Linked DNA regions of Homo sapiens. Each later gene encodes a partner of the first gene's protein in a complex. Each region holds a gene or a part of one and is shown on either strand. Other genes may lie near its edges.

Region 1 (4,683 bases):
GGATGTTATTATACACCACTGTAAATTTCATAAACACTGTACACTTAGACTACACTAAATTTATTTTTAAAAATTTTTTCAATAATAAATTAACCTTAGCTTACTATAACTTTATCAACTTTTTACCTTTTTAACTATTTTGTAATACTACTTAGCTTAAAAGACAAGTCATAAATTTTACAGCTATACAAAAATATTTTCTTTCTTTATATCTTTATTCTATGAACTTTTTATTTTGACTTCTTAAACTTCTTTGCCAAAAACTAAAACACATACAAGGCCTAGTCATGTCAGGATCATCAATATGACTGTTCTCCATATCCTGTCTGACTAAAAGGTCTTCAGGGGCAATAACAGGCATGAATCTGCTATTTTCTATTGTAACAATGCCTTCTTCTGGAATATCTCCTGAAGGACCTCCCTGAGGCTGTTTAACGTTAACTTTTTTTTCAAAAAGTAAGTAGGAGTACCCTCTAAAATAACAACAGAGGCCAGGCACAGTGGCTTACACCTGTAATCCCAACACTTTAGGAGGCTGAGGCAGGTGCATCACCTGAGGTCAGGAGTTCGAGACCAGCCTGGCCAACATGGAGAAACCCCATCACTACTAAAAATACAAAAATTAGCTGGGCATGGTGGTGCATGCCTGTAATCCCAGCTACTCAGGAGGCTGAGGCAGGAGGATGGCTTGAACCCTGGAGGTAGAGATTGCAGTGAGCCAAGATTGCACCACTGCACCCTAGCCTGGGTGACAGAGCAAGACTCTGTTGAAAAAAATATAAAATAAAATGAAATAACAACAGAGGCTGGACGCTGTGGCTCACGCCTGTAATCCCAGCACTTTGGGAGGCTGAGGCAGATGGATCACTTGAGGTCAGGAGTTCAAGACCAGCCTGGCCAACATGGTGAAACCCGCTCTCTACCAAAAGTAAAAAAATTAGCCAGGGGTGGTGGCGCATGCCTGTAGTCTCAGCTACTCAGGAGACTGAGACAGGAGAATCTCTTGAACCCAGAAGGCAGAGGTTTCAGTGAGCCGAGATCACACTACTACTCTCCAGACTGGGCAACAGAATGAGACTTCTGGTCAAATAAAATAAAATAACAGAAAGTACAGTATAGTAAATACTAGGCGATAGAGGTTTCTCAGCTCCATTATAATCTAATGGGACCACCGTCCTATGCAGTTCATCACTGATTGAAACATCATTATGTGGCACATGGCTGTCTCACATTCTGTAACAATTTGTTTGCATTTCTGTCTCCCTCACAAAAATTTTAGCTGCTTCAGGGAAGGAACTACTTGTTATTCATCTCTGTATCTCCAGTACCTAACACATTTTCTAGCAAATAGTAGATGCATGATGATGAAAATAAATCATCATAATAACAGCAGATAATATTTATCTGATACTATGTGCCAGATATTATCGAACACACTTTACATTTATTAATTAATTTAATCATCACAAAATCCAATCAATCAGTCAGACACAAAGTAGTTAAATAGCTTCCCCAAAGTTGGCCAACAAGTAAGAAACAAGGATGGGATTTTAGCACAGTCTGTACCCAGAGCCTATATTCTTAGTTACTATGTAATATAGCATCACATGTATCAATAAATGGTTACACACATAAATTAATGAATTTTATAGTTTCAGTTTCTTCTGGTCCTAAGCTGCTTTTACCCTTTTCCTTTTTTTTTTGAGACAGGGTTTCACTCTGTTGCCCAGATTGGAGTGCCCAGGCATGGTCACAGCTTACTGCAGCCTCTGCCCCCAGGCTCAAGTGATACACCTCAGCCTCCAAAGTAGCTGGCACAGTAGGCCACTACTGGCTAATTTCTCTATTTTTTTGCAAAGGATGGTGTTTTGCCCTGTTGCCCAGGCTGGTCTTGAACTGCTGGGCTCAAGCAAAACGCCCTCTTCGGCCTCCCAAAGTGCTGGGATTACAGGCATGAATCGACATCCCTGGCCTACCCTTTTCTAAAGTAGCATTTATTTTAGGAAGTTATGTACATTGTTGTATTTGTTTGAGTTGTCATAGGTACTAATACAATTTTGATGTGGTATTAAAATAATTCCCACTGGTAATGTTTTCCTACTTAACAAAGTATAGACAGTAAGAAATCAAATATATAGCAAAGAGAAATTTACTGGGTAAAATGTGCCTAGTATTCATACCCACTAATTCTAGAGTTGTTGCTTCTAATGAAAAGGGAGGAAGATGATGGTCCCATGTTAGTATTTTAGGCAGATGGAGCATCAGTCAAATCCTGGAACTGCTGTACCCAGCTTTAAAGTTTCACTGTATTGACTACATAATGCTTCCTTGTAGATATAATCTAAAATTGTTCAGCAGAGCAAATGGGTTTATATTTGACAACTAGGGAGCAATGCCAGCATTATTTTCTCTTTTGTAGTATGCCAAATATATTTAAAAATATAAGCCATAATTTTAATACCTAAAGTAACTGTTAGACTGTGCATTTTCTTATTTTAGTAATAGTAATTTCTGTTTGTGGTGAATATGAGTTTTATTTTTAAGTGTCCTAAATGTTTAATAAGAGTCAAGCCTGAGGGAGAAATCAGTCTGGTAGTTTGTAATTATTAAGATACAGCAGTTATAGGCCAGGCACGGGCTCGCATCTATAATCCCAGCACTTTGGGAGGCCAGAGCGGGTGGATCACAGGGTCAGGAGATCAAGACCATCCTGGCCAACATGGTGAAATCCCGTCTCTACTGAAAATACAAAAATTAGCTGGGCGTGGTGGCACACACCTCTACTCGGGAGGCTGAGGCAAGAGGATGGCTTGAACCTGGGAGACAGAGGTTGCAGTGAGCCGAGATCACACCATTGCACTTCAGCCTGGTGACAAGAGCGAGACTCCATCTCAAAAAAAAAAAAAAAAAAAAAAAAAGATGTAGCAGTTATATTGTTACTCCTTTTCCTCTTGGTTTCCCCCCCAAAAATACTTTTCTTGCTTAATTTACTTTCTTGGTAAGAGTGAATAGAGGCTAAGTGATAATGCCACTACACTGATTAAATGACTTACTGGCACAAAACTATTGAGGCTTAACTAGTTGACTGTTTTAATAACATCATTAAAATTTCATTTTGGTTTATTAGAGCACATCCATGCAAAGTTGGAATCTAACCATTCTCATGTCTCCTTATAATGCCTAGGGGATCTTTGAAACAGTATTTTTGCCAACTCATACTTTCTATTTTCATTCTGTAAAGATAAAACATGTAAGTGAAAACGTTTAACAAACATTAAGAACCTTCTTCGACCAGGCACTCTCCTTCGCTACAAAATTTCCACATTACCTATTTTTTTATTAGCCATTTTTGAACTCTCTTCCATTTCTAAGTTTCTCCCTGCAGCTTTCCTGAACATGAAGCATTTCCTTTTCTTTTCATTTCTAGCTTTCCTTTCTCTGTACCTCATGTACACTTGGAAGCTTCAGGGACTTAGCACTGGTCATGCCAGCCTCTACAGATCACATCTCTGTCTATAATTGGGTCTCCATGGTAATGAGAAGCAGAAAGTGCTGAAGTAGCGCACTATGTAAGGACTGGCAAGAGAAAATACTGTCGCGGCCTCTACAGGCATAGCATTGAATCCCCATGGTGCCCAAGAAGCCCGAGAGAAGCACGCTGTGGTGTAGAGCAGGAGACTGAGGACACGGACTTGGCAGATTTATTAGCAGCAATATTCTAAGATGAACCAAATTTAAGAGTTTGTAAGTGCTCTTTTCAATTGGAAAAGACCTTTGAAATTTTTTTTTCTTTTCTTTTAGGAGGCCAGATGCTCCAGTGCCTGATGGCGAAAGTGAGAAAACTGTAGAAGAAAGTTCAGATAGCGAATCTTCTTTTAGTGATTAAGCTTAATTTTGATAAGAATTACATATGCATGCATAGGGGTACATTTACATTCTGTAAGAGATTGAGCCTGAACTCTCTTAGTCATAAAAACATCAAATGGCCACATGTCCACTACCAAGCTTCTTCTATGTTAAAAAAATAATAATAAAGCAGTTTTAACCTGCCAGTATGTCTTGTTGCTAAAATAAAGGGCCTCAAAATGAAAAATAGGATAACCTAAATAAAGTACAATTAGTGCTACAAATACTAAGATAGAATATTTTAGAGATGCAATGAGCAATTACAGTCAGGCACGGTGGCTCACGCCTGTAATCCCAGCACTTTGGGAGGCCGAGGCGAGTGGATAACCTGAGGTCAGGAGTTCAAGACCAGCCTGGCCAACATGGTGAAACCTCCATCTCTACTAAAAATACAAAAAGTAGCTGGGCGTGGTGACAAAAATTAGCTGGGCGTAGTGGCAGGTGCCTGTAATCCCAGCTACTCGGGAAGCTGAGGCAGGAGAATCACTTGAACCCAGAAGGTAAAGGTTTCAGTGAGCTGAGATTGCGTCATTGCACTCCAGCCATGGCGACAAGAGTGAAACTCTGTCTTAAAAATAAAAAGAGATGCAATGAGCAATTTTAAATGAAGTCAGTGTGAGTTTAGTGATCAATAGTAGACCCAATGCAAAAAAAAAAAAAAAACAGTGAATTTGGCTAAGTGAATTATTCAATTTTTGTGAATATTTTAGCATGAAAAGTATATGGATTCATATCATGAGTTGTTAAAGACATTTCTGGTAGAAAGTAATACTGGGT
Region 2 (7,557 bases), on another chromosome or scaffold:
CTGGCTGTCCTAACTTATTTCTGTGCCTCAGTTCTCCCATATGTAAGATCACAAAGGGGGTAAAGATGCAAGATATTTCCTGTGCACATCTTCAGATGAATTTCTTGTTAGTGTGTGTGTGTTTGCTCACACATATGCGTGAAAGAAGAGTACATACACAGATCTCCTCAAAAAGGAGGCAGCAAGCCCGTTCAAGAATGGGACTGAATACACCTGATGAGTGGTTTACTTTCTGTCTGCAAACATCTACTGATCATCTGTTAGGTGCAGGCCATGATCACAACAAAGACGAATAAGACACTACACTAGCCAGGGAGAGTCTCAAAAACAACTAAACTCAAATTAAATTCATTCTACTCCAGTCATGGGTACAAAGCTAAGGAGTGACAAATCCCTCTTGGAGTTAGGGGAGTCAGGAAAAAGCTCTTAGCAGAATGTGTGCCTCTCGGCCGGGCGCAGCGGCTCACGCCTGTAATCCCAGCACTTTGGGAGGCGAAGGCAGGCAGATCACCTGAGGTCGGGAGTTCGAGACCAGTCTGACCAACATGGTGAAACTCCATCTCTACTAAAAATACAAAATTAGCCAGGCGTGGTGGTGCAGGCCTGTAATCCCCGCTACTCGGGAGGCTGAGGAAGGAGAATCACTTGAACCGGGAAGGTGGAGGTTGCAGTGTGCCAAGATCGCGCCATGGCACTCCAGCCTAGGCAACGAGGGTGAACCAGGTCCAGGAAGAAGGTGCAAAGACAGCATTCCAGGTAAAAGAAACAGCTTGAACAAAAAGTGTGTAGGGGAACCGCAAGCGGTCTTGAGTGCTGAGGGTACAATCATCCTTGGGGAAGTACTAGAAGAAAGAATGATAAACAGAGGCCAGTTTGTTAAAAACACTCAAAATTAAAGCTAGGAGTTTGGACTTGTGGCAGGAATGAAATCCTTAGACCTGTGCTGTCCAATATGGTAGCCACCAGGCACATGCAGCCACTGAGCACTTGAAATGTGGATAGTCTGAATTGAGATGTGCCATAAGTGTAAAATATGCACCAAATTTCAAAGGCTAGAAAAAAAGAATGTAAAATATCTTATTATTTTATATTGATTACATGCTAAAATAACCATATTTGGGATATACTGGATTTTAAAAATATATCACTAATTTCATCTGTTTCTTTTTACTTTTAGAAATCACATATGTGACTTAAATATTTCTTTTCTTTTTCTTTCCTCTCACTCAGCGTCCTGTGATTCCAAAGAAATGAGTCTCTGCTGTTTTTGGGCAGCAGATATCCTAGAATGGACTCTGACCTAAGCATCAAAATTAATCATCATAACGTTATCATTTTATGGCCCCTTCTTCCTATATCTGGTAGCTTTTAAATGATGACCATGTAGATAATCTTTATTGTCCCTCTTTCAGCAGACGGTATTTTCTTATGCTACAGTATGACTGCTAATAATACCTACACATGTTAGAACCATTCTGACTCCTCAAGAATCTCATTTAACTCTTATTATCAGTGAATTTATCATCATCCCCTATTTTACATAAGGAAATGGGGTTAGAAAGACCAAATAACATTTTTTCAACATCAAAACACTAGCTTGAGATCAAGCCCAGACTTGGATCTGTCGTCTGAATTCCAAGCTTTTTGTTATTTATTGATATGTTTTGTTGTTTTCATGCAATAATGCAAATATTAGCCCAAACATTTTGTTAGTAGTACCAACTGTAAGTCACCTTATCTTCATACTTTGTCTTTATGTAAACCTAAATTAGATCTGTTTTTGATACTGAGGGAAAAACAAGGGAATCTAACACTAACCAGCCCGTAGTGTGTGGTCAACACTTTCGTTACTTTAGTATACATCACCCCAATTGTTTGTCTTCACCACACACTTTGGAGTTAGGTAGTAGTATCTATTTTTACAAATAAGAAAACCCAGGCACAAAGGGGTTGATTAGCAATTATCTTTTGAAAAGCCTGTAGTTGCTCATCTGAAGAAGTGACGGACCACCTCTTATTTAGTGGACAGACAGTAACTAGTTGAGAAGACAGGGGATTTTGTTGGCGGAAAAAAAATTTTATCAAAAGTCGTCTTCTATCAGGGAGTTTTATGAGAAACCCTAGCTCCTCAGTTCCACAGTGGGTAACTGTAATTCATTCTAGGTCTGCGATATTTCCTGCCTATCCATTTTGTTAACTCTTCAATGCATTCCACAAATACCTAAGTATTCTTTAATAATGGTGGGTTTTTTTTTTTTTTTGCATCTATGAAGTTTTTTCAAATTCTTTTTAAGTGACAAAACTTGTACATGTGTATCGCTCAATATTTCTAGTCGACAGCACTGCTTTCGAGAATGTAAACCGTGCACTCCCAGGAAAATGCAGACACAGCACGCCTCTTTGGGACCGCGGTTTATACTTTCGAAGTGCTCGGAGCCCTTCCTCCAGACCGTTCTCCCACACCCCGCTCCAGGGTCTCTCCCGGAGTTACAAGCCTCGCTGTAGGCCCCGGGAACCCAAAGCGGTGTCAGAGAAGTGGGGTCCCCTACGAGGGACCAGGAGCTCCGGGCGGGCAGCAGCTGCGGAAGAGCCGCGCGAGGCTTCCCAGAACCCGGCAGGGGCGGGAAGACGCAGGAGTGGGGAGGCGGAACCGGGACCCCGCAGAGCCCGGGTCCCTGCGCCCCACAAGCCTTGGCTTCCCTGCTAGGGCCGGGCAAGGCCGGGTGCAGGGCGCGGCTCCAGGGAGGAAGCTCCGGGGCGAGCCCAAGACGCCTCCCCGAGCGCGGCTCCAGGACCCCGTCGACCCGGAGCGCTGTCCTGTCGGGCCGAGTCGCGGGCCTGGGCACGGAACTCACGCTCACTCCGAGCTCCCGACGTGCACACGGCTCCCATCCGTTGTCTTCCGAGCGTCAGGCCGCCCCTACCCGTGCTTTCTGCTCTGCAGACCCTCTTCCTAGACCTCCGTCCTTTGTCCCATCGCTGCCTTCCCCTCAAGCTCAGGGCCAAGCTGTCCGCCAACCTCGGCTCCTCCGGGCAGCCCTCGCCCGGGGTGCGCCCCGGGGCAGGACCCCCAGCCCACGCCCAGGGCCCGCCCCTGCCCTCCAGCCCTACGCCTTGACCCGCTTTCCTGCGTCTCTCAGCCTACCTGACCTTGTCTTTACCTCTGTGGGCAGCTCCCTTGTGATCTGCTTAGTTCCCACCCCCCTTTAAGAATTCAATAGAGAAGCCAGACGCAAAACTACAGATATCGTATGAGTCCAGTTTTGTGAAGTGCCTAGAATAGTCAAAATTCACAGAGACAGAAGCAGTGGTCGCCAGGAATGGGGAAGCAAGGCGGAGTTGGGCAGCTCGTGTTCAATGGGTAGAGTTTCAGGCTGGGGTGATGGAAGGGTGCTGGAAATGAGTGGTAGTGATGGCGGCACAACGGTGTGAATCTACTTAATCCCACTGAACTGTATGCTGAAAAATGGTTTAGACGGTGAATTTTAGGTTATGTATGTTTTACCACAATTTTTAAAAAGCTAGTGAAAAGCTGGTAAAAAGAAAGAAAAGAGGCTTTTTTAAAAAGTTAAATATATAAAAAGAGCATCATCAGTCCAAAGTCCAGCAGTTGTCCCTCCTGGAATCCGTTGGCTTGCCTCCGGCATTTTTGGCCCTTGCCTTTTAGGGTTGCCAGATTAAAAGACAGGATGCCCAGCTAGTTTGAATTTTAGATAAACAACGAATAATTTCGTAGCATAAATATGTCCCAAGCTTAGTTTGGGACATACTTATGCTAAAAAACATTATTGGTTGTTTATCTGAGATTCAGAATTAAGCATTTTATATTTTATTTGCTGCCTCTGGCCACCCTACTCTCTTCCTAACACTCTCTCCCTCTCCCAGTTTTGTCCGCCTTCCCTGCCTCCTCTTCTGGGGGAGTTAGATCGAGTTGTAACAAGAACATGCCACTGTCTCGCTGGCTGCAGCGTGTGGTCCCCTTACCAGAGGTAAAGAAGAGATGGATCTCCACTCATGTTGTAGACAGAATGTTTATGTCCTCTCCAAATGCTTATGTTGAAACCCTAACCCCTAATGTGATGGTATGTGGAGATGGGCCTTTGGTAGGTAATTACGGTTAGATGAGGTCATGGGGTGGGGCCCTCATTATAGATCTGGTAAGAAAAGAGAGCATTGTCTCTGTGTCTCCCTCTCTCTCTCTCTCTCTCTCTCTCTCTCATTTCTCTCTATCTCATTTCTCTCTCTCTCTCTATCTCATTTTTCTCTCTCTCTCTTTCTCTCCTCTGTCTTTTCCCACCAAGTGAGGATGCGAAGAGAAGGTGGCTGTCTGCAAACCAGGAAGAGAGCCCTCACCAGGAACCTGTCCAGCTGCCACCTTGAACTTGGACTTCCAAGCCTCCAGAACTGTGAGGGATAAATGTATGATTTTAAAGTCGCCCAGTGTGTGGTATTTTGTTTTGACTAATACAACCTGAAAACATTTTCCCCTCACTCCACCTGAGCAATATCTGAGTGGCTTAAGGTACTCAGGACACAACAAAGGAGAAATGTCCCATGCACAACGTGCACCCATGCCTGGGTAAAGCAGCCTGGCACAGAGGGAAGCACACAGGCTCAGGGATCTGCTATTCATTCTTTGTGTGACCCTGGGCAAGCCATGAATGGAGCTTCAGTCACCCCATTTGTAATGGGATTTAATTGTGCTTGCCCTGCCTCCTTTTGAGGGCTGTAGAGAAAAGATGTCAAAGTATTTTGTAATCTGGCTGGGCGTGGTGGCTCATGCCTGTAATCCTAGCACTTTGGTAGGCTGACGCGAGAGGACTGCTTGAGCCCAAGAGTTTGAGATCAGCCTGGGCAATATTGTGAGATTCCATCTCTACAAAAATAAAATAAAATAGCCAGTCATGGTGTCACACACCTGTAGTCCCAGCTACATGGGAGGCTGAGGCGGGAGGATCACTTGAGCTTGGGAGATCGAGGCTGCAGTGAGCTATGATTGTACCACTGCACTCCAGGCTGGGCGACAGAGAGAGACCCTGTCTCAGAAAAAAAAAAAAAAGTACTTTGTAATCTGTAAGGTTTATTTCAACACACACAAAAAAAGTGTATATGCTCCACGATGCCTGTGAATATACACACACACCACATCATATACCAAGCCTGGCTGTGTCTTCTCACAAATGCACTGCTAGGCACCACCCCCAGTTCTAGAATCACACCAGCCAGTTCACCCTCCAGATGGTTCACCCTCAACTTCATAAAAGTTCCCTACCTAATCTACTGACAGGCTCATCCCCGACCTAATTTTAAAGATTTCCTAGGAGCTGCAATGGGAATCCTGGACCTCAGCCTGGACAAAGAACAGCTGCAGGTCATTCTCATGTGTGGACACAGAAGCTCTGCCTGCCTTTGCTGGCCAGCTGGGCTGAGCGGGCCTGGGAATTAAGGCTGCAGGGTTGGTCCCAGGCAGTCTTGCTGAAGCTTGCCACATCCCCCAGCCTCCTGGATTTGCCAGGATCCAAGAGCATGGACTTTAGGAATTCCTGGTGGAGGAGTGAAGAAAATGTGACAGGGTGTCCTAAGCCCCGATCTACAGGAAGAAAACTGGAAATAAGACTGAGGACTTAGTTTAAGATGTTCCTACTCAGCCTCTAGCTTTTGTGCTACAGTTCTGGGAACAGACTCCTCTCTCCTGAAAACCACTTCCCTCCGCAGCATTAAATTTCACCAAGATGTCTTGCTTGTGGGAAAGACTTCCAAGGATGCCTGGAGAGAGGAGGATGGAAATGTCCTGCTCTCTAAACAGATAGACAGATGCAGCCAGACAGAAAATAGTTTATCTTGCTGAGGTTTCTAATGTATTTGAAAGAGGCCTGGGTCTAGAAGTCTACCCAGAGGGCTCTGTGTTGTGCACGCAAAGATAAGAACCTTCCCTGTGGGAGTTCCAGAGCCAATTTTCCTAAACACCCATCGGTGACTGTGTTCAGAGTGAGTTCACACCATCCTGACCTGCCCTGAGTTAGACCTTACATGGTCTTCCTCCTCTAGGAAGCCTCTGCAGCCCAGGAACCTCCCCTTATCGGAAATGAACAGCATTTGAAGCTTCACCCGACAGACCAGACAGCTTAGCCCTCGTGTTGTGCCATGTGGGTTGTTCTCTGAGAGGCAGGAGAGCATAGTGGTTACTAGGAAGGGAAGGACTTTGGGACTAGACTGCCTCGGCTGGAGTCCTCTTTCTGCTTCATAGCCACGTGATCCTAGGCATGTTACCTGTGCCTCAGTTTTCACTCTGTCAATATGTAATAACTGAATCTGTCTTTGTGGTGAGGATTCAGTGAGTTAACATATTTGAAGTGCTTAAAAATGAGGCTTGTGTCCATAGATTAATGAGTGAATACACAAATGGTGATATGGACATACAGTGGAGTATTAGTCATAAAAAGGAAGGCAGAGCTGATCCATGGCACCATGTGACAGAACCTCAAAAGCATTAGGTTAAGTGGAAGAAGCCAGACACAGGTCACCTATTGTGTAATTCCATTTATAGGAAATATACAGAATATGTAAATCCGTGGAGAAAGAAAGCCGATTTCCAGGGGCTAAGGGGAGGGGAGAATGGGAAGTGGCTGCTTCATGGGTACAAGGTTTCATTTTGAGCTGATGAAAATGTTTTGGAACTACATAGAGATAGTGTTGGCACAACATGGTGAATGTACTGAATGCCACTGATTGTTCACTTTAAAATGGCCAAACTTATATGAATTTCACCTCCATTAAAAAAAAAAAAAAAGGACCAGATGTGGTTGCTCACACCCATAATCCCAACACTTTGGAAAAAGGTGAAAGTTTTTTTTTCTTTTTTTTTTTTATATACTTAAGTTCTAGGGTACATGTGCATAATGTGCAGGTTGGATACATAGATATGCGTGTGCCATGTTGGTTTGCTGCACCCATCAACTTGTCATTTACATTAGGTATTTCTTCTAATGCTATCCCTCCCCCAGCCCCCCACCCACTGACAGGCCCCAGTGTATGATGTTCTCTGCCCCATGTCCAAGCGTTCTCATTGTTCAATTCCCACCTGTGAGTGAGAACATGCAGTGTTTGGTTTTCTGTCTTTGTGATAGTTTGCTCAGAATGATGGTTTCCAGCTTCATCCATGTCCCTGCAAAGGACATGAACTCATCCTTTTTAATGGCTGCATAGTATCCCATGGTATATATGTGCCACATTCTCTTAATCCAGTCTGTCATTGATGGACATTTGGGTTGGTTCAAAGTCTTTGCTATTGTGAATACTGCCACAATAAACATACATGTGCATGTGTCTTTATAGTAGCACGATTTATAATCCTTTGGGTATATACCCTAAGACCTGGGACGCATTTAAAGCAGTGTGTAAAGAGACATTTATAGCACTAAATGCCCACAAGAGACCTCTGCCTGAGAACGTGGGTTTCAGCCTAAGAGTTGTAATATGTGTGCCCATTCACAGGTGCTGCATCAGAGTCCCAGGTGGGAAGAAGGCAAGCATACACAAAAATGGTAAAAGGCAGAA
Region 3 (7,031 bases), 3.1 Mb from region 1:
TGGAGATTCTGCCTTTGGATTTTCAGCCTTTTTTTCTTTGTATGATTTGTTTATAGATATTTTATGTTAGATTTATTTTTTATGAACTATAAATACAGACAAGTATATGTGTATGTTAGAATATGTATAAATATGTAATACATAAGCATGGTTTTAAAAATAATAACCACTGTCCCACTTAAGAAATACCCACTGTCCCACTTAAGAAATAGAATGTTACCAATATTTTCAAATGCTGTGTTTTTTCCTAATTGCATCTCAACCTGTCCACCTCAGAGGAAACTACTGTCCTGAATTTTATGTTTATCATTCTCTTGTTTTTCTTTTTAGCTTGCCAAATATGGATGAATCAATAAAGCATTAATCGTTATATATGTTTTTGAAGTTTATATTAGTGGAGCAGTATTTTATGTATTTTTTGATCCATTTTTTTATTCAACATTTTGTTTTTTACTCAGCATTTTGTATTTGAGGGTATCCATGTTGGGATGAGTAGCACATCTATTTTCATTGTTGTGTAGTGGATAGACTTCGGGTTGTTTCCGGTTTTTGTATCATAAACAATGTTGCCATCCTTGTATGTGTTTCTTGGTGTACTTGTGCAGGAGTTTTTGTAAGGAATTATATACCTAAAGTTGGTTACTGGATTATGTGTTACGTATATGTTCACCTTTTCAAGATGATGTCACATTGTCTCTATAGACAGACTATATATATGTGTGTGTGTATATATATATATATATATATATATATATATATGCCTCCCACAATACATTAGAAAATTACATTAGAAATAAAATTGTATTTCCAATTGACCAACACTGGTATTATCGAGCTTCATTTTTTAAAATAAATTAGTGGGTATAATTGGTTTTATGATTTTTAATATTTAACCCCTGATTGTTAGTGATGGTAAATATCCTTTCAATTATTTATTAACTATGTTTCTTCTTTTGTGAAAAATCTGTTCATGTCTTTTCCATTTTTTTTATTGGATTGTGTGCCTTTAAAAAACAAAATCTTTCATTCATTTTGGGTCTTCTTATATCCTGAACATTAGTCACTTGTACCTGGTAGATATTTTGTGATACATCGGCTTGCCTTTTTATTTTCTTTATAGAGACTTTTGATGAACAGAAGTGCTTAGTTTTAGTATAGTTGAATTTATCAGTTCTATACTTTGTAAGTTTTTTTTTTTTTTTGAGACGGAGTCTTGCTCAGTTGCCCAGGCTGGAGTGCAGTGGCGCCATCTCGGCTCACCTCAACCTCCGCCTCCCAGGTTCAAGCGATTCTGCCTCAGCTACAGGAACTACAGGTGTGCGCCACCATGCCCGGCTAATTTTTGTATTTTTTAGTAGAGACAGGGTTTCACTATGTTGGCCAGGCTGGTCTCGAACTCCTGACCTGGTGATCCACCTGCCTCGACCTCCCAAAGTGCTGGGATTACAGGCGTGAGCCACCACGCCAGGACTGTAAGGTTTTTTTGTATCTCATTTACAAATCCCTTCCCTAGCCTAAGGTCGTAAAGATCTTCTATAATTTTGCCTGAAATTTTTAAGTTGATTGTCAGAAAATTATTTCTGATTCTTTTTAGGCAATAGAGCATATGTTCTACAGGAGAAGCATGGTTGTGGCTGATTCAGTTTCACATATAACACAGCACCTTCAACATCAGGCTCTTCATTCTATTTCTGTGGCCAAGGTATGCAGCTTATTATGTATTTAGCATAAGTATGTTATCTTTTTTGTTTGTTCTTTCATTGTTTTATATGTGTTTTCTGGTTTAACCTGTTTATTCCATTCCTTCAAACATAATATGCTCGGTTATTTATCTCCATAGTATTTTACAATTTTTACTTCAAGTTATTGGCATTATCTTTACTGTGAAATTGCAGCATGTAATACATTAATACACTTCTAAAAAGACATTGCACTTTTGAAATTGATGCATCATTTAAAAAATGATTTCTTAGTAAATTAACATGGAAATTTTAAAGTATGCCTAATACATTTGCTGTTTCTGACAGTACTAAGGGATCATATTACAGAAGTAAAGTATAAATGTCAGAAGCTTAAATGGGGAAAGTATTTGTGTATGCTCTCTTAAATTGAATCATGGAAAAGATAATCAAGAAGTTTTTCTTCTGAGTCTTTTGTTACTGCCTCAGAAACAAATAGTTTTCCTGTTTTATTTTTAAGAAAAGAGTGATTTCTGACAAAAAATACAGCGAACAGCGTCTTGATGTGCTCTCTGCTCTAGTTTTGGCTGAAAACACTCTAAATGGACCAAGCACAAAGCAACGGCGACTTATTGTTTCTTTGGCACTAAGTGTTGGCACACAAATGGTAAGTGTATTGCTATTACTTATGGAACAGAAATGAGATCTGAGATTTCACAGTTCCCTTGTTACTGACCCTAGAAACCTTTGACTGCAACTTCTCTGCCTTTTTTTCCTGTCCCTGATAGAAAACATTTAAAGATGAAGAACTCTTTCCACTTCAAGTAGTCATGAAAAAACTGGATCTTATTAGTGAACTTAGAGAACGGTAAGTAGGACTGGGATATGCTGTGGTACTCCAAAGACAGGGTTAATAGAAACATTGATTTTCTTTTTAGCATAGCAAGAGAAGAAATAAAATTCAGATCGAGCATTAGTTCCTTTCTGTAACTTCTTTAGCATGACCAAAATGAGATTGTGACTAGGGATCATATTTATTTAGCTTTGCTTCTACAGGAAGCATGTAGCCCCTAGAAAAACTCACATGAGAAAAAGCAGTGCAACCTCAGAGCATCTGGCCGACTTTGATGCATATCGTGATTATTATGTTGGGTATCTTTATTGGACTTAAATTGCTGTATTATAACAGGGCTTCCTCTATTTGTGTGAGACTTAGCAATCCATGATACGTAGTGTTCTATGATTTTATTTTAAGACACGAATTTGAATTAACATTGTTGAATTAGTTTTTGGAAGGCTTATTTTTGTAGCTCCTTCTGGCTTTCTTGTTTTCTTTTTGTTGAGTAAGCGTAAATTTCTTGAAGGGAAATTTGAATTTTGGTTTCCAGCTGAATTAAGGTTACAGCACAATTTCCATTTAGTATTCATATTTATAACTTACTTTTTTGTTGTTCTGGAGAAGCTGACATTTTTCTTGTTATTGGCATTTAATTTTCCACTCTTGGAAGAAATATTGAGCCTTTTTCATTATAAGATAGTTAATGATCATTCTGTTGCCCTTTAAGGTGTGAAATAGTCACTTGGCAAAGATTGTAGACATGTTAAGTGTGGGTTTTTTTTTGGGGCGGGGGGGGTCACAATTTTTTTTTTTTAAAAGATTTTTCTTTCCAACTTAGAGTCAGGGAAAATGGAGCATGTGATGCAAGTATTTAAGTCTAGTCATAGCAAATAATATTGAAAATGAGTTTGTTTTTATTTACCAAAACCAAAAATGGTCAATAAATGTTTATTTTAAACTCTGATATTTGAATATTATGCATATCATTTTTCAAGTATGGTTTACAAAAGCATATGTGCAGAATTCTGACAATGTCAGGCATTGGAGTGTTTGTTACCTTTGTTTCATTTTGATAGTATTTCTTTTGTGACTTTTCTATACTATGTTGGGTTAAGTGATGTAGGGAATGCGAACTGTGTAAGATGGAACTCTTCCTTCTGTAGTAGATGTCATTCCTTTCATATTGTTTTGGGATTCTTCAGTTTTGGTGTGACTGATTACTACTTTACATTGTAGAGTCCAAACACAATGTGACTGTTGTTTTTTATACTGGCATCGAGCTGTCTTCCCAATTTATTTAGATGATGTATATGAAAATGCTGTTGATGCAGCCAGATTACATGTAAGTAAAGAACAATATAAAGAATAATTCTATCATTTTAAAAGTCACTGTGTAAACCGTTTTAGTTTAAAATAGATCATTTGATTTAATAAACTTTTAAAATTGACTGTTTTGTAAACTGCATATTCATAAAGTGTTTATAGTCTGTAGTTAAATTTTATGTTACTGTTAACGAAGTTAATTTATTTAATTTCTTCCTTCATGTTCCTAATCATTTTCATTTCACTTAATTTTAGTTTATGTCATAGTAATCTGACATTTACTCATCAGCAAATTACAATGCAAAAGAAAAAATATTTTTAAGAAATATTCATATTTTTCTTTATGGAAATAAGTGTGTTTAAATGCACAAGATAGGAAAGGACTAGCGAATGTGATTTTTTTTGGGTATATTTAGTTAAAGTATATGCTTTAGGTTCTTTTTCTTTAGGAAAGTTAAGACAGTTGTGGAAAATCATTTTTCCTTCAGATCGAGGTTTTGTCTTTCAAGATAATTAACTTTTGCAGTATTGTTTAGATTAGAGACCTGGTTTTTCTAAATTCATGTACATTTTAATTTTCTTCTTAGTACATGTTCAGTGCTTTGCGCGACTGTGTACCTGCTATGATGCATGCAAGGCATTTAGAGTCCTATGAGATACTTCTGGATTGCTATGACAAGGAAATTATGGAAATTTTAAATGAGGTAACATCATATTTGAGATTGAAAAGCTTAAAACATGTTTGGAATGTAGTGTTTGGAAAAAAAATGTTCGATTGAAGCAGACTCACTGAGTTAAAATTATTTATAAATTGCTGGGTAGAACAAAGAACTATTTTTAGTTACAATATCACTGTTGTGCTAATTGGTCTGTAATTCATTTATTTAGAAATCACACTAGGAATTAGGAGATTTTAAATTTACTTTTGTAAATAGATATTTTAATTTAAAGTTGTTTATTAGAAGAATGCAAATGTGAAATGGTTTTGAATGTTGAAAGCTGCTAATGGTCCAGTTAAAGCAACTTAACCATTAATATTTTACTGAATTTTATTTGCAGAGCTCCTGAGAGAAGGAAATTATATATTTAAAAGATTTAGTGTGTAACAAAAGTAATTTGAATCCAATATGTATGCCCCTCCTTTTGTTAAGGAAATATGTATTATAAACACTGATATCTTTAAAATTAAATTTCCATTTAGTGATATTTTTATTTGGAGGGAGGAATTAAAAATGAGGAAATTTCACAATATAATCCTACCTGGGTTTGATGAAATTGTGAAAAACTTTTTATAATTTCTTGTATTACGTATTCTTATTTAGGAAATAAAATACATGCCTGGATAGTAATTTAGAACTCCTTGGTAGACCAGAAAAGATGATTAATTTTATTACCTTTAGCACAATGAATTTTGTGATTTTTTTTTTAACAGTTATTACAAGGAAGCTTTTTTCTTTTCTCTCTTGCCTGTTCTCATGCCCTTTCCTCCTTTGTTGCTGGTTTCCATAAATTTTATGCTTTAAGTTGCATATTCATGTTCCTTATGATGGTACCATCAATCATTAGTTTTAGATTTTCTTTTCAAGAGTATTAACCTTAAGGTATTGGTGAAAATAAAGACTTAGAATTTATGTAACTGCTTCTGACCAAAAAACTATTGGTTTAAAATGGAGCATAGACATGTAGGGAAACAATACAATTGCAATATCATTTTGAAAAATTAAAGTATCAAATCTTTTGTGAATAGCATTTGCTGGACAAATTATGCAAAGAAATAGAGAAAGATCTGCGACTTTCTGTGCATACTCATTTAAAGCTGGATGACCGAAACCCTTTCAAAGTTGGCATGAAAGACCTGGCTCTTTTTTTCTCTCTGAATCCAATTCGGTTTTTCAATCGTTTCATTGACATTCGGGGTGAGTGTTTTGCTTTCCTTCTTAGAGTCATATTCTCTTTTTTTTTTTTTTTTACCCTACTGTTAAACAAAACTTTGAGGGTATATTTAAATTTTGTGTTGTTATTCTTTAATTACATTTTGTTTCTTTTCTCATTTTTATTAATACCTTATTTTAAAGGAACAAATCTGATGTTCAAGGACAAGTTGTTGTTTTTTCCTTTTAGGTTTCATTTCTTTTCCTTTTCTACTGTTTCACAAGTTGAATTTTTTTTTTTTGGTAGCTTACGTAACTCACTACCTAGACAAGACTTTCTACAATCTAACAACTGTAGCCCTTCATGACTGGGCCACTTATAGTGAGATGAGAAACTTAGCTACTCAGCGTTATGGACTGGTTATGACAGAGGCACATCTTCCCAGTCAGACTTTGGAACAGGTATAGTATAAAATGTTTTTTTTAGCATACTGTGACTGTTGGCTGTAACAGTACTTTTTAAGGAAGTCTTTTTTCTTTTTGCTTTAGTTAGTATGTGCTTATTTTTTAAGAAATTATTTGCCATATAAAATCTTATACTTGACAACAGTAAAAAATTAGGTGCTGCTAAATTGCTTTATAAAGGAATTTACCACCGGGGTCCTGCTTATATTCAGCCTTCTGTTGAGCATTCGAGATATACATATATATTTATATTTATATACAGCTTTTCAGAAACACTAGAATAGTGAAGTGACTTCTGTAGAATTTTAAGAAGTTCAAAGTCACATTTAAGGATTTTAAGCCTGGTTATAGTATATAAAATTTAGTATCTTAGGAAAAATGGTTAAATTTACATGATTACAAATGTGTTTTTTGTTCTTAAAATGAGGAGTATAGGAAAACATTTAGCTTTGCTAATTCAATTAGTTAATGTACAGTATGGCATTGTCTCATGAATGTAATAATTTATGTTATCAGATAATTTGCGTGGAGTTCTCTTTAAGATGATCCAGATAATATTTACCAAAAAACATTTATTCAGTTCTAAAATTTGAGGATTCTAGTTTTCCCTTTATCTTGCTGCATGTAGGGATTATTTCTAGGATCAGTTTGTATATCCTTTCATTTATTTTGTATATCCTTTCATTTATTCATTTATATATCTGATATTTATTGAGAACATGCTAGGCACTGAACTATGTTTAGGAATACAAAGATAAATATAAATAGTCCCAGCTCATGTAATATCCTCTGGGAGAAAAAATGTGTAAACAAATTTTTAGATTAGAATATGATAAAAGTTATAATAAAAACTTA

What was found. Proteins that work in one complex are often made in the same cells at the same time.
Region 2: WASHC3 (region 1) and WASHC1 share a complex: the UniProt entries of both Homo sapiens proteins name them as parts of the WASH core complex.
Region 3: WASHC3 (region 1) and WASHC4 share a complex: the UniProt entries of both Homo sapiens proteins name them as parts of the WASH core complex.

The regions. Positions count from the first base shown.
Region 1 is NC_000012.12:102,012,311-102,016,993, reverse strand, and holds the end of WASHC3 (WASH complex subunit 3), read left to right. Parts: intron 1-3,801; coding exon 3,802-3,886; 3' UTR 3,887-4,154; downstream 4,155-4,683. UniProt on the Homo sapiens protein: Acts as a component of the WASH core complex that functions as a nucleation-promoting factor (NPF) at the surface of endosomes, where it recruits and activates the Arp2/3 complex to induce actin polymerization, playing a key role in the fission of tubules that serve as transport intermediates during endosome sorting.
Region 2 is NC_000009.12:26,457-34,013, forward strand, and holds the start of WASHC1 (WASH complex subunit 1), read right to left. Parts: upstream 3,001-7,557; 5' UTR 2,893-3,000; coding exon of another isoform or gene 2,856-2,892; intron 2,778-2,855; exon of another isoform or gene 1,200-2,777; coding exon of another isoform or gene 1,198-1,199; exon of another isoform or gene 1-1,197. UniProt on the Homo sapiens protein: Acts as a component of the WASH core complex that functions as a nucleation-promoting factor (NPF) at the surface of endosomes, where it recruits and activates the Arp2/3 complex to induce actin polymerization, playing a key role in the fission of tubules that serve as transport intermediates during endosome sorting.
Region 3 is NC_000012.12:105,138,700-105,145,730, forward strand, and holds part of WASHC4 (WASH complex subunit 4), read left to right. Parts: intron 1-1,594; coding exon 1,595-1,702; intron 1,703-2,199; coding exon 2,200-2,346; intron 2,347-2,467; coding exon 2,468-2,547; intron 2,548-3,753; coding exon 3,754-3,859; intron 3,860-4,427; coding exon 4,428-4,544; intron 4,545-5,587; coding exon 5,588-5,756; intron 5,757-6,018; coding exon 6,019-6,173; intron 6,174-7,031. UniProt on the Homo sapiens protein: Acts as a component of the WASH core complex that functions as a nucleation-promoting factor (NPF) at the surface of endosomes, where it recruits and activates the Arp2/3 complex to induce actin polymerization, playing a key role in the fission of tubules that serve as transport intermediates during endosome sorting.